3 linked regions of the Homo sapiens genome follow. The protein of the gene in region 3 interacts with the protein of the main gene of each other region in a pairwise test. Each region holds a gene or a part of one and is shown on either strand. Other genes may lie near its edges.

Evidence for each region.
Region 1: the proteins of TRAPPC12 (region 3) and TRAPPC6B interact in a two-hybrid assay, tested with the Homo sapiens proteins (one study listed by BioGRID).
Region 2: the proteins of TRAPPC12 (region 3) and TRAPPC10 interact in a two-hybrid assay, tested with the Homo sapiens proteins (one study listed by BioGRID).

What each region holds. Positions count from the first base shown.
Region 1 is NC_000014.9:39,153,255-39,160,364, forward strand, and holds part of TRAPPC6B (trafficking protein particle complex subunit 6B), read right to left. Parts: intron 6,297-7,110; coding exon 6,229-6,296; intron 5,149-6,228; coding exon 5,031-5,148; intron 4,663-5,030; exon of another isoform or gene 3,868-4,662; intron 1,041-3,867; coding exon 957-1,040; intron 1-956. UniProt on the Homo sapiens protein: Component of a transport protein particle (TRAPP) complex that may function in specific stages of inter-organelle traffic.
Region 2 is NC_000021.9:44,015,306-44,022,415, reverse strand, and holds part of TRAPPC10 (trafficking protein particle complex subunit 10), read right to left. Parts: intron 1-7,110. UniProt on the Homo sapiens protein: Specific subunit of the TRAPP (transport protein particle) II complex, a highly conserved vesicle tethering complex that functions in late Golgi trafficking as a membrane tether.
Region 3 is NC_000002.12:3,417,584-3,424,693, forward strand, and holds part of TRAPPC12 (trafficking protein particle complex subunit 12), read left to right. Parts: intron 1-4,116; exon of another isoform or gene 4,117-4,203; intron 4,204-4,297; coding exon 4,298-4,411; intron 4,412-6,941; coding exon 6,942-7,080; intron 7,081-7,110. UniProt on the Homo sapiens protein: Component of the TRAPP complex, which is involved in endoplasmic reticulum to Golgi apparatus trafficking at a very early stage.

The sequences.
Region 1 (7,110 bases), on a different chromosome or scaffold from region 3:
AAAAAAAAAAAAAAGAGAGAAAATATACACATTAACCATAAAAATGTAATTAGAGCCTGGATACCCCAAAAATATAGAAAATAGGCAATCAGGCCGGATGCAGTGGCTCACACCTGTAATCCCAACACACTGGGAGGCCGAGGTGAGGTGATCACTTGAGCCCAGGAGTTCAAGACGAGCCTGGGCAACATCGTGGGATCCCATCTCTAAAAAATTTTTTTAAAAATTAGCCAGGCATGGTGGCCCACACCTGCAGTCCTACCTCCTTGGGTGACTGAAGTGGGAGGATCACTTGAGCCCGGGGGGGTCAAGGTCAAGATAGGCCATGATTGTACCACTACACTCCAGCCTAGATGACAGAGCAAGACCTTGTCTTAAAAAAAAAAAAAAAGTGATCTACCATACATCTACATTTCACTGTCATTTAGTTATAGTGTTTCTTTTTTTTCTTTTTTTTTTTTTTTGAGATGGAGTTTTGCTCTTATACCCCAGGCTGGAGTGCAATGATAGCACGATCTCAGCTCACTGCAACTTCTGCCTCCCGGGTTCAAGTGATTCTCCTGCCTCAGCCTCCCGAATAGCTGGGATTGCAGGCGCTCGCCAGAACGTCCAGCTATTTTTCATATTTTTAGTAGAGAAAGGGTTTCCCCATGCTGGCCAAGCTGGTCTTGAACTCTTGACCTCAGGTAATCCACCTGCCTTGGCCTCCCAAAGTGCTGGGATTACAGGCGTGAGCCATAGCGCCCGGCCAGTGTTTCTTTAATTGGTCACTCTATGACTATTTAGCTACAGTTTAGTGTTATTGTAACATGTCTCTCATTTCATAGAAAACTCTTTAAACAAAAAAGAACACCTTAAAACATATTTTTAATTCAATAGTTTGTTATGATTAGCACTGTACTTTTCCCTGTAGTCCTACTATTAACAAAAACCCCAACTTCTATTCCATTAAATACCTTAGATGCATGTTCTAAATACTGTTTTCCTGCAGACATCTGAGTAAGCAGGCGAAATTTGTTGTCCTGAAGTACATAGATGCCCTGTTCCAAAAATAGAAAAAAAATCCAAAGTCAATGTACCTAGCAGTCCTTAAAATTATTTTATTCTTATGAAACAATTTAAGTGTTTTTTAAAGTTATTAAAAGTCTCCTTCCCATTGGCCAAGTTTTCTTTTTCTGTTCTTTGAGACGGGGTCTCCTCTGTCGCCCAGGGTAGAATGCAGTGGCACAATTACGCCTCACTGCAGCCTCCAACTCCCAGACTCAATCAATCCTCCCACCGCAGGCTCCCAAGTAGCTGGGACTACAGGCGTGCATCACCATGCCCTGCTAATTTTTATATTTCTTGTACAGATGGGGTTTCGCCATGTTGCCCAGGCTGGTCTCAAACTCCTGGGCTCAAGCAATCTGCCCACCTTGACCTCCCGAAGTGCTGGGATTACAGGCATAAGCCCACGTGCCCAGCCTGGTCAAATTTTGTTTAAATGAAGGAGTTTTGCAATGTTCAAGCTGAAGAGTTGCGAGTTCAGTATTTTCACAACACTAATGTATACCGAACGGTTTTATACACTGAAGATAAAAACACTGTCTGAGACATAGTCCCTATCCTTAAAAACTCATAGTCTAGTACGATGGAATCATTAATACATGTCCACATGAAATAAGCTGTTTGTTTGTATAGTTATTTATTTAGACATGAGCTCTCACTCTGTTGTCTAGGCTGGAGTGTGGTGGTGCAATCACAGCTCACTGCACCCTCAAACACCTGGGTGTTTAGCAATTCTCTTGCCTCAGCCTTCCGAGTAGCTGGGACCACAGACACATGCCACCACACCCGGCTAGTTTTATTAATTTTTTGTAGAAAGGGGGTCTCCCTATGTTGCCTAGGCTGGTCTGGAACTCCAGGGCTCAAGTAATCCTCCTGCCTCAGCCTCCCAAAGTGCTGAAATTACATGTATGATCACCACACCCGACCTAATTTTTATTTTTATTTATTTATTTTTTTGAGACAGAGTTTCACTCTTGTTGCCCAGGCTGGAGTGCAATGGCTCGATCTCAGCTCACCACAACCTCCGCCTCCTGGGTTCAAGTGATTCTCCTGCCTCAGCCTCCCAAGTAGCTGGGATTACAGGCATGCGCCACTACGCCCAGCTAATTTTGTATTTTTAGTAGAGACGGGGTTTCTCCATGTTGGCAGGGCTGGTCTTGAACTCCCAACCTCAGGTGATCCACCCGCCTTGGCCTCCTGAAGTGCTGGGATTATAGGCGTGAGCCACCGCACCCGGATTTATTTGTTTATTTGAGACAGAGTCTTGCTCTGTCGCCCAGGCTGGAGTGCAGTGGTGTGATCTAGGCTCACTGCAACCTCTGCCTCCCGGGTTCAAGCAATTCTCCTTCCTCAGCCTCCTGAGTGGCTGGGACTATAAGCGTGCGCCAATATGCCTGGCTAATTTTTGTATTTTTAGTAGAGACAGGGTTTCACCACGTTGGCCAGGCTGGTCTCGAACTCCTGACCTCAGGTGATCTGCCCACCTCGGCCTCCCAAAGTGCTGGGATTACAGGGGTGAGCCACCGCGCCCAGCTTTATTTTTTTAAGAGACAGAATTTTGCTGTTATCCAGGCAAAAGTGTAGTATTTCACTGTATCCTTGAACTCCTCCCATGTAGCTGAAACCTCAGGCACATACCAATATGCCTGGTGAAATTTTTTTCAAGTTTTTTGTAGAAATAGGTTCTAAGTATGTTGCTCAGGCTGGTCTCCAACTCCTGAGCTCAAGCAATCCTTCTGCCTCAGCCTCCCAAAATGCTGCAATTCTAAGCATGAGCCACCATGTCCAGCCAGCTGATATATATTAGTAAATCATGTCTAGAGAGTAAAAAAATCATAGTCATTTCTTCCTATTAGCATTTCCAGTAATTCCAAGCTAAAGTTGGTACAAAATGAATTCCAGGCCAGGCACAGTGGCTCACACCTGTAATCCCAGAACTCTGGGAGGCCAAGGCGGGAGGATCCATTGAGCCCAAGAGTTTGAGACCAGTCTGGAAAACATAGTGAGACACTGTCTCTAATTAAAAATAAATAAATAAATGAATTATCCTATTGAGAGTACCAGATACATTTAATTTTTTACTTAATCAAAATTCCAAATCTACTCTAAGTATTTCCTTGAAGTTCATAAAATAAAATCTAATGAAGCTGGGAGTGGTGGTGCATGCCTATAATCCCAGCTATGCAAGAGGCTGAGGCCAAAGAATTACTTGAGTCCAGGAGCTCAAGACTAGTCTGGGCAACAAAGCGAGACTCTGTCTCCCTTTTAAAATTTTAATAAATACATAGTTTTCTATGTAATCTATTAATTTTGTAGTAAGAAAATCTTTTAAGAGTAGAAAATATGACAGCAGTAATAATCCAGGAGTTATTTAAGAGTAAAATGCTCTATAAATTAGACTTTAGAAATGACTATAAAGAATCTCTTCCTGCCACCCAAGATGCCAAAAGGAAAGGCCAAGAGGAAGGAGGTGGCTCTGGCCCTTGGTGTCATGAAGAAACAGGAGGCCAAGAAAGTGGTGAATCCTGGTTGGGCGTGGTGGCTCACGTCTGTACTCCCAGCACATTGGGAGGCCGAGACAAGCGGATCACTTGAGGTCAGGAGTTCGAGACCAGCCTGGCCAGCATGGTGAAACCCCACCTCTACTAAAAATACAAAAATTAGCCGGAGTGGTGGCACATGCCTGTAGTCCCAGCTACCTGGGAGCCTGAGGCAGAATGGCTTGAACCCAGGAGGCGGAGGTTGTGGTGAGCCGAGATCGCACCATTGCACTCTAGCCTGGGCAACACAGCAAGACTCCATCTCAAAAAAAAAAAAAAAAAAAAGAAAGAAAGAAAGTGGTGAATCCCCTGTTTGAGAAAAGGCCTAAGAATTCTGGCATTGGACAGGACATCCACCCAATATGGACCTCACTCACTTTGTGAAATGGCCCCGCTATATCAGGTTGCAGTGGCACAAAGCCATCCTCTGTAAGCAGCTGAAAGTGCCTCCTACAATTAACCAGTTCACCCAGGCCCTGCACCGCCAAATAGCTACTTAGCTGCTTAAGCTGGCCCACAAGTACAGACCAAAGACAAAGCAAGAAAATAAGCAGAGGCTATTGGCCCGGGCTGAAAAGAAAGCTGCAGGCAAAGGGGATGTCCCCACTAAGAGACCACTTGTCCTCCGAGCAGGAGTTAACACCATCTCCACCTTGGAGGAGAACAAGAAGGCTCAGCTGGTGGTGACTGCACACTATGTGGATCCCATCGAGGTGGCTGTCTTCCTGCCTGCCTTGTGTCATAAAATGGGGGTCCCTTACCGCATTATCAAGGGGAAGGCAAGACTGGGATGTCTAATCCACAAGAAGACCCGCACCACTGTCGCCTTTACACAGATTAACTCAGAGGACAATGGAGCTTAGGTTCAGCTGGTGGAAGCTATCAGAACCAATTACGACAGACAAAACGAAATCCACTGTCACTGGGGAGGCAATGTCCTGGGTCTCAAGTCTGTGGCTTGAATTGTCAAGCAGGAAAAGGCAAAGGCTAAAGAACTTGACACCAAACTGGGTTAAACATACACTGTTGAGTTTTCTGTATATAAAAATAATTAAAATAATCCAAATTCTTCTTCTTCAAAAAAAAGAAATGACTCTAAAGACATAAAGGTGATATATTTGTGGTTCTGCATATTATTACCACTAATTAACAGTAACTAAGGAACCAAATAGTAAAAGCTATTCTCATCCTGACTTATGCTACTTTAAAAAACTTAACATAGCATATAATTGGGTGAAAGGAACAGCTATCATTACTGATAACTGTCCCTTTGTCTTTACTCAGTTCACACTATTAGAAGAAAAAAACTAATAACTCATTAATAACATAAACATATTCCAAAGTTAACCAGAAATTATTTTAGGTTTTAAATAAGTCACTAAAATACGATATTTATATCAAGTTAAAGGACTTTAAAATATAGGCCTTAATTAATTTAATTACCTGATGATTTGTCCTTAGATTGTCGATTTGTTTCTTGAATACCGTAGTCCAAAAATCTTTACAAATGAACTTCATGATATCTAACTCATCCTTGAACCTTGCAGTATCTTTTGTAAACCTAAAAAGATCAACTAGAAGTAATACAGTATTTCTCCTCCAAAAAAAGCAAGAGGGACTAATTATTAACTAATTTCCAAATGCCAGAACAGCACTGAACATTTATTGGGTTTTTTAATTTTAATTTTTTTTTTGAGACAGATTCTGGCTCTGTCGCCCAGGTTAGAGTGCAATAGCATAATCTCGGCTCATTGCAACGTCTACCTCCCTCCCAGGCTCAAGCTATCCTCCCACCTCAGCCTCCCTAGCAGCTGAGACCACAGGCACATGTCACCATGCTCAGCTAATCTGTATATCTTTGTAGAGACAGGGTTCCACTTTGTTACCCTGGCTGGTCTCAAACTCCTGAGCTCAAGAGATTCTCCCACCTTGGCCTCACAAAGTGCTGGGATTACAGGCATGAGCCACCACACCTGGCTGAACATTTATTAACACTAATAAAGTCATAAGCACCAGGTAACATGATCCTATCTCAATGGATTCACATTATGTTATATAAATTATGAGGCCTCAAATTAGTCTAACATTATAGCCAAAATTTCAGGTGCAATGCATTCTAGCACATCAAAAAACCACAAAAGAACAAAGAGCTGAGCATTATCATGACATTGTTATATAAAATATACTCCGAGTTTAACTATTCAGGTAGTGAGAAAGAAATACTAAAAAGAACTGATTTATAAGTTCAAAGATAATTACACGCATAAACATAGACTATAGTTATTTCAAACCTATGTACTTAAAAATTCTATGCAGGTTAAAGAACCTAGCAGATCTTAAGTTGAAAATGCAGTAAGATTTTAGATAGTTGCTTCAATAGCTTCAGGAATAAAGTCTAAAATAGCTTCAGGAAGAAAGTCTAAAATATATAAAATATATATTTTCTTTAAACATTAAAATAAAATTTGAATAAATGAGTTAAATGGCATTGGATCTAAAAAGAAATTTTAATTTTTGAAGTAAAGAGAATAACATTCAGGAATTAAAATTAAAATATCCCAAGTTTTATGCAATCTTTTGAAATAGATCACCTTTGTTTATAACCTACCTGCAAGAAAATTTTCAAATCCAACCTGCTCACCTTTCTATCAATCCTTGTCCCACTCGAAACCCCATGTTTTCCAGCTTAGTAATACATCGTCCGTTTTCCTATTTTAAAAAACAATAGTTTTAAATACTTTTAGAATGCTAGGATGTTAGTATTCAGAAATTGTTTTACAAGATTGGTTAAAAATATTAATGTAAACATTTATACTTTTTTCCCTGAAACAGTTTAAGAAAAAGTGAATTATAAGGTTGATTTTATTTATTTTACTTTACTTTTACTTACTTTACTTTTTACTTTTTTTTTGATAAACAAGTTAATTCATAATTTAGTCAACATATACATGATTAACCTAAAAACTTCAATAGAAGGATACATTTTTTTAATTTATTTTGAGATGGAGTCTCGCTCTGTCATCCAGGCTGCAGTACAGTGGGGCCATCTCGGCTCACTGCAACCTCCATCTACAGGGTTCAAGTGATTCTCCTGCCTCAGGTTCCTAAGTAGCTGGAATTATAAGCACCCACCACCATGCCTGGTTAATTTTTGTATTTTTAGTAGAGAAAATACAAAAATACAAAATGTTGGCCATGCTGGTCTCAAACTCCTGACCTCAAGCAATCCACCTGCCTTGGCCTCCCAAAGTGCAGGGATTACAGGCGTGAGCCACCGCGCCCAGACAGAAAGATACATTTTAAAACCACTTGGAAGGCCATCTCTATAGAAGTGATTTTCCCAGGATAGTAACCAGATGTAACCTAACCCAACACCATCTTAACTGTCAGAGGTTCAATGGGTTAAAGCTTTGTGCTCCTCCCTGACACCAAGTCTTTTAATAGAAACAAACCCCTCAAGACACGGTGGCTCATGCCTGTAATCCCAGCACTTTAGGAGGCCAAAGCAGGAGGATCACTTGAG
Region 2 (7,110 bases), on a different chromosome or scaffold from region 3:
GCTACTCGGGAGGCTGAGGCAGGAGAATCGCTTGAACCTGGGAGGCGGAGGTTGCAGTGAGCCAAGATCGCACCACTGCACTCCAGCATGGGCAACAAGAGTGAAATTCCATCTCAAAAAAAAAAAAAAAAAAAAAAAATTTAGCCAGGCATGGTGCCATGTGCCTGTAATCCCAGCTACTTGGGAAGCTGAGGCAGAAGAGTTGCTTGAACCCGAGAGGCGGAGGTTGCAGTGAGCTGAGATTGTGCCACTGCACTCCAGCTTGGGCAACAAGAGCGAAACTCCATCTCAAAAACAAAAACAAAAACAAAAGAAAGAAAGAAACGTTTTAGGTGTAATTAAAAAATACCATGAAAGAAAAAAAAAAAGAAAGAAATTTTTAAAAAGAAAAAAAAATGCCATAGACTGGGTGGCTTAGAAAACAGTTTTTTGTTTTCTCTCTGAAAAGACCCTAAGAAAGAAAAAAAAAATCGCAATGTATTTTCTCATAGCTCTGTAGGTCAAGAAGCCCGAGATCAAGGTGTCAGTAGATTAGGTTTCTGGTGAGGCCTGTGTTACAGACTGCAGACAGCCACTTCCTTGCTGTTATCCTCAGGTGGCCTTTCCTCGTTTCAAGGGGGAGGTGTCCTCTCACTCTTCCTCATCTAATCCAATAATAAAGGGCCCACCCTCCTGACCTCATCTAGCCCTGGTACTTCTCAAAGGCCCATCTCCTATTCTTAGCACACTGGGAGTCAGGGCTTCGGTGTGTAGGGAGGGACACAAATGTTCAGTCCATAACATCCATTCGTGGATAAATTATATGTCTGAGATTTGCTTCAAAATAATATAAGACTGGGGAGAATGAGGGGTATAGAGAAGCAAGATTGGGCAGTTCACCTAATTGCTGTAGTTGGGTGAAAGGTTTGTAGGGTCTCTTTATAATATTCTGTCTACTTTGATACATATTGCACTTTTATAATAAAATATGTGAAATGTTACAGTTCTTCCATTTCCCTTATCCTTCTCTTTTTCTTTTTTCCATAGCACTTGTCACCTAACATTATTTGTCTATTGTCTATCTCTTCTTGACAGAATGTAAACTCTCAAAGGGTTGGGATCTTTGCTCTCTGACATAACCCAAGCCCCTTCAGCAGTAACTGGCATGTAATAGGTCCTCCGTAAATGTTTGCTCACTGATGAAAACAGCCCAACTCCTCCATACTCCACACTAGACAACCCAGGATCCCCAAAGGACAGAACAGACTACAGGAGAAGCAAAGACAGTGCTGGGTATCAAGTTCTCAGAATAGGAATTTAATTTTGGAATAAGACTATACTAAAAATTTCTAGTGTATAGCTTACTTACTCAATTCTTAGAATGCTAAAGTGACATTTTTATTTAATTATATGGCAAAGGCTTTCTCAGAAGCATAATTTTAGGGACAAACTCCCTGCTTCCATGTGAACAGATGGTGTCTGCCTTCCCTAAGTACTTGGTAAAGCAGGAGTCATCAGACATGCTAATATTGGTCCGAGCTGTGCTACTAAACAGTTACACTGATCATGGCCAGTCACAGCAAAACCAGCCCTCAGCTCCTCAACTTCAAAATGACTTCTGACGGCCCTTCTCATTAACCTGGATGTTTAGAGCTTGCTGACTGGTCTAGGTGAACTGACAGTGCCCACAAATGGCAAGCTACAGATTGAGTTAAAGTTACTATCCAAACAGGTGGTTGTCAGTTCCAAGGCTCTGCTAAAAATTTCAACCCTGAAATTGTTTTTTTTTGTTTTTTGTTTTTTGAGACAGGGTCTCACTCTGTCGCCCAGACTGGAGTGAAGTGGCACAAACATGGCTCACCGCAGCCTCAAATTCCTGGGCTCAAGCGATCCTCTGGCCTGTCTCCCAAGTAGCTAGGACTAGAAGCACGCACCACCATGCCCAGCTAACTCTGAAATGTATACAATCGCTTCAAACTGCTAACAGATCTCAGTTAAAAATAAGAAAAATGGGCCAGGCGCGGTGGCTCATGCCTGTAATCCAGCACTTTGAGAGGCCGAGGCGGGCAGATCACAAGGTCAGGAGATCGAGACCATCCTGGCTAACACGGTGAACTCCATCCTTACTAAAAATACAAAAAAATTAGCCAGGTGTGGTGGTGGGCGCCTGTAGTCCCAGCTACTCGGGAGGCTGAGGCAGGAGAATAGCGTGAACCCAGGAGGCGGAGTCGGAGCTTGCAGTAAGCCGAGATCACGCCACTGCACTCCAGCCTGGGCAATAGAGCGAGACTCTGTCTCAAAAAAAAAAAAAGAAAAGAAAAGAAAAATGTCCAAACATACAATGGAATGGTCCCTGGTCACTGTTAAAAAAAAAAAATTGCAAACAGGGGCCTAAAATAATATTCAGAAATTAAACACCATGTAACAAATGTCCAAAAAGCCACATAAGGGAGAGAGCACAGAAGAGGCTGGACTTTTCCTAAGAAGGGATCACCCCACCTTGTAACCACATCTAGAACCCAGAAGCCCAAATGTCAAGATAACATTCCCTCGGTCAGGAGTACACGAAGGACAAACCTCCAAAGACAGACGCAGCTGTCTAAAACCAAAGACGCTTGATGAATGCCGGCCACTGCGCGCTTGGTAGCTAACACAGACAGTGGTGCGGCAGGTGGCATGGTGCCCCACAACATCCTAACCCTCAAAACCTGTGAATGTCACCTTATTTGGGAAAGGGGTCTTTGTAGACTTAATTAAGTTCAGGAGCTCAAGATGTGATTATCCCAGATTATCCAGGCAGGCCCTATATATAGCTGGATTCTAGATATATTTCAAAGATAATGTCAGTTGTGAGAGAAAAAAGAAGTCATAAATGACTCCAAGGTTATCAATTTTTAATTTAAAAACAAATATTCTCTAAGGCCAAAATACTGTGACTATATTTGACATTAAGAGCAGATAGAGGAAAGATTTGAGGAAGAAAGAAGGTGAGACACAGGACAGGAAGCCACAGGAAGCTCTGAGGCAACCCACCACAGAGGCAGGCACTGAGGTGGGAATGTTTTGACTGTTTAAGACCCTGCAGCTGTCTGGGCACAGTGGCTTATGCCTGTAATCCCAGCACTTTGGGAGGCCAAAGAGGGCGGATTGCTTGAATCCAGGAGTTCAAAACGTGCCTGGGCAACATGGCGAAACCCCATCTCTACTGAAAATACAAAAAATTAACTGGGCATGGTGGCACACAAGCAGCTACTCGGGAGATTGAGGTGGGAGAATCACCTGACCCCAGGAGGTCAAGGCTGCAGTGAGCCGAGATCATGCCACTGCACTCCAGTCTGGGCGACACAGTGAGACCATGTCTTAAAAAAAAAAGACCCTGTAATCTTCTGCCGTTGCTGGTCTCTAACTCCAGATCTAAAGCCACCAGGTCTAGAGTGGAGCACGGGGGTGGGAGGGTCAGTACTTGGAGATCAGTGTGCAATACCTTTGGAGACCACACACTTACACACTAAGGCATGCGACTCCAGGGAAGACACTCTGTCAACTGGCAACAAACTTTCCTACGACAAAAAAATCCTTAAGTCAGTTATTTGTATTTCCATTAAAAGATAACCAACTCAGCCAGAGTGAGCCACACAATCACACTGTCAGTTGGCAGGCCTCTGGTGGAAGCACACAGCAAAAACTCTCTAAGGAAAGACTGGTTCATGTGTTATGCCCGACATACTTTTTTTTTTTTTTTTTTGAGACGGAGTCTCACGCCAGGCTGGAGTGCAGTGGCATGATCTCGGCTCACTGCAACCTCCGCCTCCCAGATTCAAGCAATTCTCCTGCCTCAACCTCCCGAGTAGCTGGGACTACAGACGCGAGCCACCACGCCCAGCTAATTTTTGTATTTTTAGTAGAGACGGGGTTTCACCATGTTGGCCAGGGTGGTCTCAATCTCTTGACCTCATGATCCACCCACCTTGGCCTCCCAAAGTGCTGGGATTATGGCCATGAGTCACTGCGCCCAGCCTTTATTTTTTTTTCTGAGACCAGGTCTTGCTCTGTCACCCAGGTTGCAGTGTGAGGTACAATCACAGATCACTGCAGCCTTGACGTCCCAGGTCCAAGTGATCCTCCCGCCTCGGCCTCCCAAGTAGCTGGGAGTACAAGCGCACACCACCACACCTGGCTAACTTTTTTATTTTCATTTTTGTAGAGATAGGAATTCCCTATGTTGCCCAAGCTGTATCATACTTGATTATTTCAGAGATTCATCAGCACTTAAGAAAAAAAGAAAAAAAAAAAGAAAATCAGACCTTTCCATTTCATTTGCATAAAGAACTTACTAGAAACTCTTCAGAAACACATCTTGTAGTAAAGTAGGTGTGTGAGCTGAAAAGAAAGGAAGCTTTTCAATTCTAAAGTATCAGTTCAAATCCACCCTGGAGTTGGGCTAATAACACTAACAGCACGGGTTCCCAAACTGTGTACCTAGGCTTCCCACACACTACGCAGAGAGGCACCAAGAGATATTTTAAATTTATGAGGGAAACAGCAATGCTTGTGGTGTAGGAACCCCACACAAGGTATTCACAGTGTCAACATCAGATCAGGGCTCCACTTCTTTCGATGACATCATTATCGTCGCAAAACAGGGTGGCTGCTCTGATAAAAAGCAAGTACCACCAAAAAGAAGAAGAAAAAAAAAAAACCAAAGGGAGAAGCAGCGTCCAATCCGACCTTCAGGTGAGAGGTGCCACAGAGCTCCCGCAGGGCCTGCCCCCCACGTAGCACACTGCTGCAATTAGGAAGAATGATGAAAATATTTTTTTCTTCCAACTTATATATATTTTTTTTCAAACAGCTCTTGTTAGGACATAATATTTAATAAATTACTGGAATCTAACTACTTAATAAATGGAATTTTTAAGTATTCCTTTTAGCCTAGAGATGCCATGAAAAAAATTACCGAGACACTAAAAGCATTGTGAACAGAGAAAATTGAGGAACCTCTCCTTAGTAACTTTTTTTGCACACTGACTATAATCCTGACACTCTCCTGAGTGCTTTACACACCCTTCTCAACCCGATGGGGTTGGTACTGTACCCGTTTCACAGCTAAGGGTCTGTGAAATTATGTAAGAACCGAGGTCATGCGTACAAGATGGAATGGTTTGTAACCATGCTCGGGTAGAAATGACATAGTAAGTTAAGCACATTTGTTGGTGCCTTTAGTCCCCGCCTCCAAATACATACTCTCTGCAACAACTGCGATTTCCTAAGAAGAATGTTTCTCCTACTTTTCAATCTTTGGTTCAACATTGCCTTGAGAATTCAATATGAAACAAAATCTGCATTTATAACATATTCACCCATTTAAACAGACATTTCAAGTGACTTTTCTGGTAGTAAAACTAGTGATGGTTAAATCGCAAGCACCACATTTTCAGGTTTAGTAGAAAATTTCAATGTGCAAATTTAAAAACTTTAACCTGGCTGGGCGCGGTGGCTCATGCCTATAATCCCAGCACTTTGGGAGGCTGAGGCGGGCAGATCACAAGGTCAGATCAAGACCATCCTGGCTGACACGGTGAAACCCCGTCTCTACTAAAAATACAAAAAATTAGCCAGGCGTGGTGGCGGGCGCCTGTAGTCCCAGCTACTCGGAAGGCTGAGGCAGGAGAATGGCGTGAACCCGGGAGGCGGAGCTTGCAGTTAGCCAAGATCACACCACTGCACTCCAGCCTGGGCAACAAAGCAAGACTCCGTCTCAAAAAATAAAAATTAAAATTAAAAAAATTTTAACCTACAGGGGAAAATCCCAAAGTCCAACCAGACACGAAGCTCTACATATCTGCTCATTTCTGTTGCCTGTTTTCCCCTTTAAAAGTTTCTAATATCAGACCTGGAACCCCAAATACAGAAACTCAGAAAAATGAAACAGGCAACAGATGTGACTAATGAGAACAGATCACCTAGAGGGAGGGTACTATTATTGTTCAGAGAAATTCAATTCCAAGCTAATAACAGGTATGTGCTATTGTAGGTATGAGGACAGTCAACAAAGAAAAGCCACAAATCACTGGAATTACATTAACTTTGTCACTAACTGAATGAGATGGCTGGAAAAGGAACGTGTCTTTCCTAATACACCCTTGGAACAGAAACCCAAGTCTATTTCAAAACAGAAAACTGACCCTGTGGCTGAAAAACAAATCTACGCTAAAATTTAAATTTAGACCAAATGGATCTGCTGGATTTGTTTCAGTTACGCCAGGCATTTTTCATGATTAATAAAATATACTACAAGTTTTCCTATTGCTATGATTCGGTCATTCATCACCCAACCCCGTCAAAGCATTAGTTCCACTAACTGTTCAGCTCCCATCCCTGCACATTTCACATACACTCTTCAGTATTTACAAGCTGTAACTAGTTCTGAGTTTAAGAAGGCCCCTACTGTGCTAGTCCCTCTTCACAGGAGCCCGTTAGGCAGGAGGTTTAATTATGGGCTAAAGTCTATTAAAACATTTAGGGCCAGGTGCGGGGGCTCACGCCTGTAATCCCAGCACTTTGGGAGGCCGAGGCGGGCAGGTCACCTGAGGTCAGGAGTTCTAGACCTGCCTGGCCAACAAGGTGAAACTGTGTCTCTATTAAAATACAAAAATTAGGTGGGCATGGTGGTGTACGCCTGTAATCCCAGCTACTTGGGAGGCTGAGGCAGGAGAATCGACTGAACCCGGGAGGCAGAAGTTGCAGTGAGCCGAGATCGCGCCACTGCACTCCAGCCTGGGCAAGAGAACAAGACTCTGTCTCAGACAGAAAAAAAAAAAAAAAATTTGGAGAGCTTCAAAATATTATTAAAATAATTCAGGCCAGGTGAGGTGGGTCATACCTGTAGTGCTGGCTACTTGGCAGGCTAAGGGAGGGGTCACTTGAGCCCAGCAAGGCTGCAGTCGGCTATGACCATGCCACTGCACTCTAGCCTAGGTGACAGAGCGAGACCCCATCTCTAAAAAAATAATAATAATAAAATGAAGTGAAATAATCAGCTAGGTTTTAAAGTAATAATCTATTCTAATTACCCTTAATCTTTGGGAACTTTTCATTCTTCTATCCCTACATATACACAGTTTTTAAATT
Region 3 (7,110 bases):
CCTTGTGTCCCCCCGAGCCTAGCACAGTGCCTGGTTCACAGCAGGCAGTCAGTAAATGGCCACTGAGTGAATGAATGAGGAAATGCAGATTCCGCCAACATTTACTCATCGAACTTCTTTGTTCTTCTTTCCACGAGAATTAAAACCTTAAGTTTCTCATTTTTAAAAATGGTCATTGGCCGGGCGTGATGGCTCACGCCTGTAATCTCAGCACTTTGGGAGGCCGAGGCAGGCAGATCACCGGAGGTCAGGAGCTCGAGACCAGCCTGGCCAACATGGCGAAACCCCATCTCTACTAAAAATACAAACTTTAGCCGGGCGTGGTGGCGGGCGCCTGTAGTCCCAGCTACTCAGGAGGTTGAGGCAAGAGAATCACTTGAACCCAGGAGGCGGAGATTGCAGCGAGTCGAGATCGTGCCACCGCACTCCAGCCTGGGCAATAGAGACTCTGTCTCAAAAAAAAAAAAAAAAAAAAACATTGTCATAGTGGCAGGCACAGTGGCTAATGCCTGTAATCCCATAATCCCAGCACTCTGGGAGGCTGAGGTGAGTAGATCACTTCAGCCCAGAAGTTCAAGACAAGCCTGGGCAACATGGGAAAACCATATCTCTACAAATACTCGCCTGCTTCTGCCACTCTGCACCATCAATATAAATAATAACTAATTCACAATAATCAGTCATGAAAGAATAAAATGGAAAACATGCCAAATGCAGGCCCCTGCTTTGTTATCACTGCATGCCATACACATAAAGTTCTCTGTCACGTGACTACAGGAGCATCTCCATTCCTGTGCCTCGTCCTCAGGTATCAGACGCAAGCCACTCGCGGGCTGAAGTCAGCCCACAGTCCTCCTTGAAGTCAACAGAAATGAACTACTGAGCCACGAGGGGCCTAGACCTGGGATCCGCCAGCGTTTTCTGTAAAAGACCATAGAATAAACATTGTAGACTTCCTGGCCATACAGTATCTGTCCAGCTCCTCAGCTCTGCTGTGAATGCCCAGCTCTTCCATGGTAGCACAGAACCTTATCACCGTGCAGGTGCACACGAGGCTGGGCTCTGGGTTCCTGTGAGCTCTGCCTACCAACTCAGGCAGTAGGGGGTGGGGGGCGTCCAAAGGATGTGCACAGATTGCCAGCACCAGGCCCAGCTGCTGGAACATCCTCATAGCTTTACTCACATCTACACGGACGCCTTAAGTTCACCCCATCAGTGCAGGGAGACAGGGGCCTTCAAATGTGATGACACGACACTGCTGTGGCCTGTGCTCTTGGAAGCCTGCAAAGGCCAGCACACCCGACCCTCCTCTGCCTCACCTCCTGTGCCACCCCATCCTCACCTGCTTCCCCAGCCTCTCCTCATCCACACCTGCTCGGCCCCTCCTCCACCGCCTCCCTCCGGCCCGCTGGTCCTTACTGCATCCCCTCGGGCCCTGCACCCTGCCCTCTGCTCCCTGTGCCCCCCATGCCTGCTCTCGCCTTGTTTTGCACACATTCTGTCCTCTTCTAGGGTCTCCGCCCCCTCCCCTTCCCTGATTAACTCCTGCCTGTCCTCACTGTAGGTCATGTCCTGAGGGAAGAGGGCCCCAGCCTTTCTAGCAGGAAAGGCCAGAGCCTTAGGCCTAGGGAACCAGGAAGGGAGCAGTTATTAGTTGCCCCTGGATACAGAATCTGCCTAGATGCATATATAGAACTGGTTCAGACTTGGCACAATCTCTTTCCCTCTCACTCTTTCACATTTGCAATTCAAAGAGAATATACAGAGCCATTTGTATTATATAAAGTGATTATTGCATTGAATTTAGACTAGAGAAGGCATTTGGAGATCGTTTTAGTAAATTATCGTAACCAATCTAAAAATACTTCTGAACTGTCAACCAGAACACAGAAATCCTGTATTACTTGCTGTAGTCTGGACAGTTTAGGGGAACGTGGCACCGATCTCATCTTCACCGTCGATCAGTGGTTCTCTGACTTGGTCCAGTGGCCGCACACCAGCTAGTGAAGAAAACCACAGACTCCAACTGCACTGTGTACGCTCTGGTGTCCTCATTTCCAAAAAAAAAAAAAAAAAATCTACAAGATAGAGTTTAAGAAATCTCATTTGAGTTGCCCTGCTAATATTTGCAGCTCGCTGGTGGGTGCCGTGGAGGCCAGTACTCACCGTCAGGCTGTGGCAGGTACAGTGAAAGGAAAAACTCCATGAGAGAACGGTGGAAAGTTCACCTGAGAGTGAAACGCATGCCAGTTAGAGTGGCTGAAAAATAGCATGGACAACACCAAGTGCCACGGGACGTGCAGCCGTGGGACCCCTCACTGCTAGGGAAGGCAAGATGGCACGGCCACTTAGGAAGACAGCTTGGCGGCCTCCTACAACACTAAACATACTCTTAGGTACAACCCAGCAATCCAGTTACTGCATTACGCTCCTGGATATTTCACCCAGTTATGCCGAATGCTTATATCCACACAAGAATCTGCCCAAAGATGTTGATACCAGCTTTATCCATAGTTGCCAAAAACTAGAGGCAACCAAGGGGTCCTTCGATAGGTCAGTGGGTAAACACACTGGTAATGTGGACAGTAGGATGTTCAGCATTTAAAAAAAAAACAACTATCAACCCCTCAGAAGACCTGGAGGAAACTGAGATGCCTGCAGCCCAGGGACGGCTGGTGGCTTGCAGCAGGTCACACGGCTACTCAGGCGTAGAGCCTGGCCTGTCTGAAGCTCAAGGCCCAGCACCCGTTCCTTTCCTTACACATAGAGTTTCACTAGGCACGCACACGCTGACTCTGGATTGATGAAGAAACAGTTTGGGAATTTTTAACAGCATCGTTCACATTTTTAATGCCTGCCTCCTGCCTGGCACTGTGCTCAGCACTTTCATGTATCTTCTTTAATTGTCACATCTGTGAGGTGGGACAGATGACCTCAGCTCTGTAAACTCAGCCATTGCTGAGCCTGCAGTGTGAGTGTGAGGCCACATGTCAGAACCCCGGAAGACACAAGCCCCACTCTCCTGCCTTCAACACAGCCCCCCACACCGCCGCTGTGGCTGGAATTGGAGCAGGTCGTTAGCTCCTGCCTGAGGAAGCCCAAATAAAGGACTGCAGAACAACTGTAGTGCAAAGCTGAGACTCATTGCCCTCCTAGGCGTTTCATGAGCAGGTCCTGAGTTCTCTGTGTCCCGGCGTGGAGTGCAGGAGGCGTGGAAAGGGAGTAGTGCGTGTGTGAGTTAGTATACAGAAGAAGTGTGTGGCAGGCTCTACCACACGTTTTTAAAATATGTAAACTCCTAAACTTCTTGTCAGAGAAGCGCTTGGCATGCACACAAAATCATTTAGCTAATTCTTGAGAAACATATTGTTTAATTGTCTGTCTCCCTTGCTAGATCATACCACTAATGAGTGCTCGTTCACTAACCTCCCCGCCAGCCTTGCAGTCTCTGTCAGGCAGGAGGTACTTAAAGCATGTTTATTGACTGGCTGCAGAAATGAGGACATCTACCGTATTCAAAGATAGTGCCCGTTACATTGAGAAAAGACAGAGTGAGCATCCACTTTTAGCTTCTTAAAAGGTTTAAACATTCTGATCTTATTTTCCCATTCATTTGCCTAATGGCTGTCCTTTCTGTATTGCACAAGGGCAAAGATAAACACAAGAGTCTGTACGAATCAGCCAGTGTGTCAGTACCAGCCAGCCTTTCCATGTTGAAGCCGTAACGTTAAGTGATGTGAAAGTATACTGTGCATTGCCACACGGGCCTGGAACATGTTGTGTTCACCCAGTTCATTGATTTTTTCATATTGATAAATTAAAATTATGAACATATAAAGCCAGTTATTTTAGAGTCATATGCAAATCTTACAGATACAAATAAATATGTCCAACACATAGCATAAAATTTCCTTATTGATTTTAAATTGACAGAAATCTTAAGATAATCTTGCTAAAAAGGAAACCAGTCATATAGATTGAGAGATGTGCGGAGCTTTCCAATAAAAAGCCTCTTCCCGATGTTCTATCGGTTGTTGAATTGTAATGTTTTTATGATTTGATCGGCTTGAACTGTACCTCACGCTTGGCTCTCTTATTGCCTAATTACACGTGCAGCGTTGACAAATGGCATGCCCCTCCGTGCCGTCAGCACACTGACGTTGTCACCATTACTAACGGCTGGCTGGCGCTGCTTCCAGCAAGGTGAGCAGCTGTGGCCAGTGGCTATGCGTTTGGGTCATGGATTCCACCATGCCTTGCATGTGTGTTTGGTCACATGTTCTGCCGTGTCTTGCAGAGCTGCAGAAACTGGAGGGCAGCAGTGGACCTGTGCGGACGTCTCCTCACAGCCCACGGCCAGGGCTACGGCAAGAGCGGGCTGCTCACCAGCCACACGACAGATTCACTGCAGGTGAGAACACCTTTCAGGTGCTGGAGTTTAACCTGGCTTATCACAGTCTGGGGACATGGACAGGACCATGGCCTTTCATGCCAATAACAAAAAGTATGTTTTCATATCCTGCTTCTTTCTCTCCTAATTATATTGTATATACTATACTGGGGCACTGGAATTCTCACTTCGGCCCGTCAGGATGCCTGTGCGCCCCAGAAGCACGCTCACAAGTGCCCACACTCAGTCTCATGGTGGAACCGGCATGGCTTTGGGTCAGCAGGTGGGTTCGCCTCACGACTGGCAGTAGCAACTGGCCTGTGCGGGGCTCTGGGGCGTGTCTGGGCCCGGTAGGAAACAGTGACAGGAGCAGTTGGTTCTGTCCACCCCAAGGACGGAGGGTCCATGTGCCATTTGCTCCTCGTGGTATATCACTTGCTCTGAAATTTAAAAAAAAAGAAAAAAGAAAAGGGAATGCACAAAATAGACTTGTGAACAAAAGGAAACTCATCTGAGAAGAAGGAACAGCTGCAAACGTTGATACATTCTTACCTTTCCCTGGGGAGTTTTTTAACTGTTCTTCTAGCTTACATGGGAATCCCCCGGGACTAAACAGATCACCAGATCCTTCAGAACTGTGATGAGCTTTTGAAAGGAGCAGCTCTGGGGAGCCCTGACAGCTTAGCTATTTCCAGCAGGCTCCTTCTCCTTCTTTCTCTTCCCCCAAGAGCCGACAAGAAGAGCCGCTCTAGCTTTAAATGTACTTTCCCCCATCACCTCTCCATCCATTGGTTTGCCAAATCTTAGGCTGTTTTCCTATCATTTCTCTCCAACCCACCACCACCCACAGTTCGAGCTCTCATTGCAGTGTTGCTTTGGCCTCTTTTATGAACTTAGTTCAAGTTTCTTTATTCACATTCATTCCATAAACTACCTCCAAAAAAGCACACTTTTGATCATCTCACTTTCCTGCTGGAAAACTGTGCCCGGCGCAGTGGCGCATTGACTGTAGTCCCAGCTACTGGGGAGACTGAGGCAGGAAGATCACTTGGGCCTGGGGCTTCTGGGCCGTAGTGCACTTTGTTGATCAGGTGTTGGCACTAGCTCAACACCAATATGGTGACCTCCCTAGAGCCAGGAACCACCAGGCTGCCTAAAGAGGGTGAACCACCCTCCTTTCCAACTAGGTCTGAAACGGAGCTAGTCAAGAGCTGGATAGTTTCCCATTGGCTACCATGTGAAATTTCATCTTCTCGTGTTGTATGCAAACCCTCAGACCATGACAGGCTATGTGTACACTATGGAATGGTTAAATCAAGCTAAATCGCATGCATTGCCTCGCATGCCTTTGTGTGTGTGTGTGTGTGTGTGTGTGTGTGTAATGAGAACACTGAAAATCTGTCTTAGCAATTTTTAGTATACATTGTAACTGTGTCACCACGTCTACAATAGATCTCTTGAGCTTATTCCTTGCGTCACTGGATTTTGTTTCCTTTGACTAACATCTCTCAAACCTCCCCTGCCCGGCCCTCCTCCCCACCCCCAGCCCCGGCACCCGCCATCTACTCTGCTTCTGTGAGTTCAGTGTTTTCAGATTCCATGTGTAAGTGAGGTCACACGGTGTTTGTCTTTCTGTGCCTGGCTTGTTTGTCTAACGTCATGTCCCCTAGGCTCATCCACAGCACAAACGACGGGATTTCCTCCATGAAAGCTGAGTGGTATTCCACTGTGCGTCATGCCACGTTCCTTTATCCGTTCATCCTTCAGCGGACACTTAGTGAAATTCATTCTTCTCATCAGTAAAGTCAGATCCAATTAGGTCATTTCTAAGGTACCCTTTTAATCCTAAGTCTCTGGCTCTGCAGCTGTCTAATGCAAATTCCCACCATTTTCCTGAATGTACCCCTGAGAGCACACTGTGCTCTCTCGTATGTTGTGTTTTGTCCACTCTGTACCTTTGTCCTTACGTTCCCTGAACCAGCAGACCCTTCCTTAGCCTGTGGCCCCTTGAAATTCTGCAGCCCTGAGAGCTGCCCTCAAACACAACCCATCCCTGCGCTTCCTCTCCTTCCTGCTCCCGTTCCCGCCGTCATTCCCCCGCCCTCCACTAGGTGGCGCATTCCTTTGGTGCCTTTTCATTTTCATGACACCTAGCACAGTGCTTTGCACACAGACCTGCTCAGTAAGCACTGTTTACTTATTGAGTAAACAATTATGTAAAATCATTCACATTGTTATTAAGCTCAATAGTAATTTCTTCTTAGAGACAGGGTCTCGCTATGTTGCCCAGGCTGGACTCAGACTCCTGGGCTCAAGCAATCTTCCCACCTCAGCCTCCTGAGTAGCTGGAACTGCAGGCATGAGGCATCATGCCCAGCTTCAAGAGTAATTTTTTAAATACGATTGTGTAAATATGCAAAGATAGAAAGTTAGGTTAGCCCTTATTTTAATATATGAGAAATTAACCTCTAACACCAACTCATAAGGAATAGCAAATTCTGAACTGGATATATGTAGATAACCTATTGTTTCCATTGTATTTTGTTTTTAGCTCTGGTTTGTCAGGCTGGCACTACTAGTGAAGTTGGGCCTTTTCCAGAATGCTGAGATGGAATTTGAACCCTTCGGAAATCTTGATCAGCCAGATCTTTATTACGAGTACTACCCGCACGTGTACCCTGGGCGCAGGGGTAAGGCCATGGTATTTAATATTTGTACAT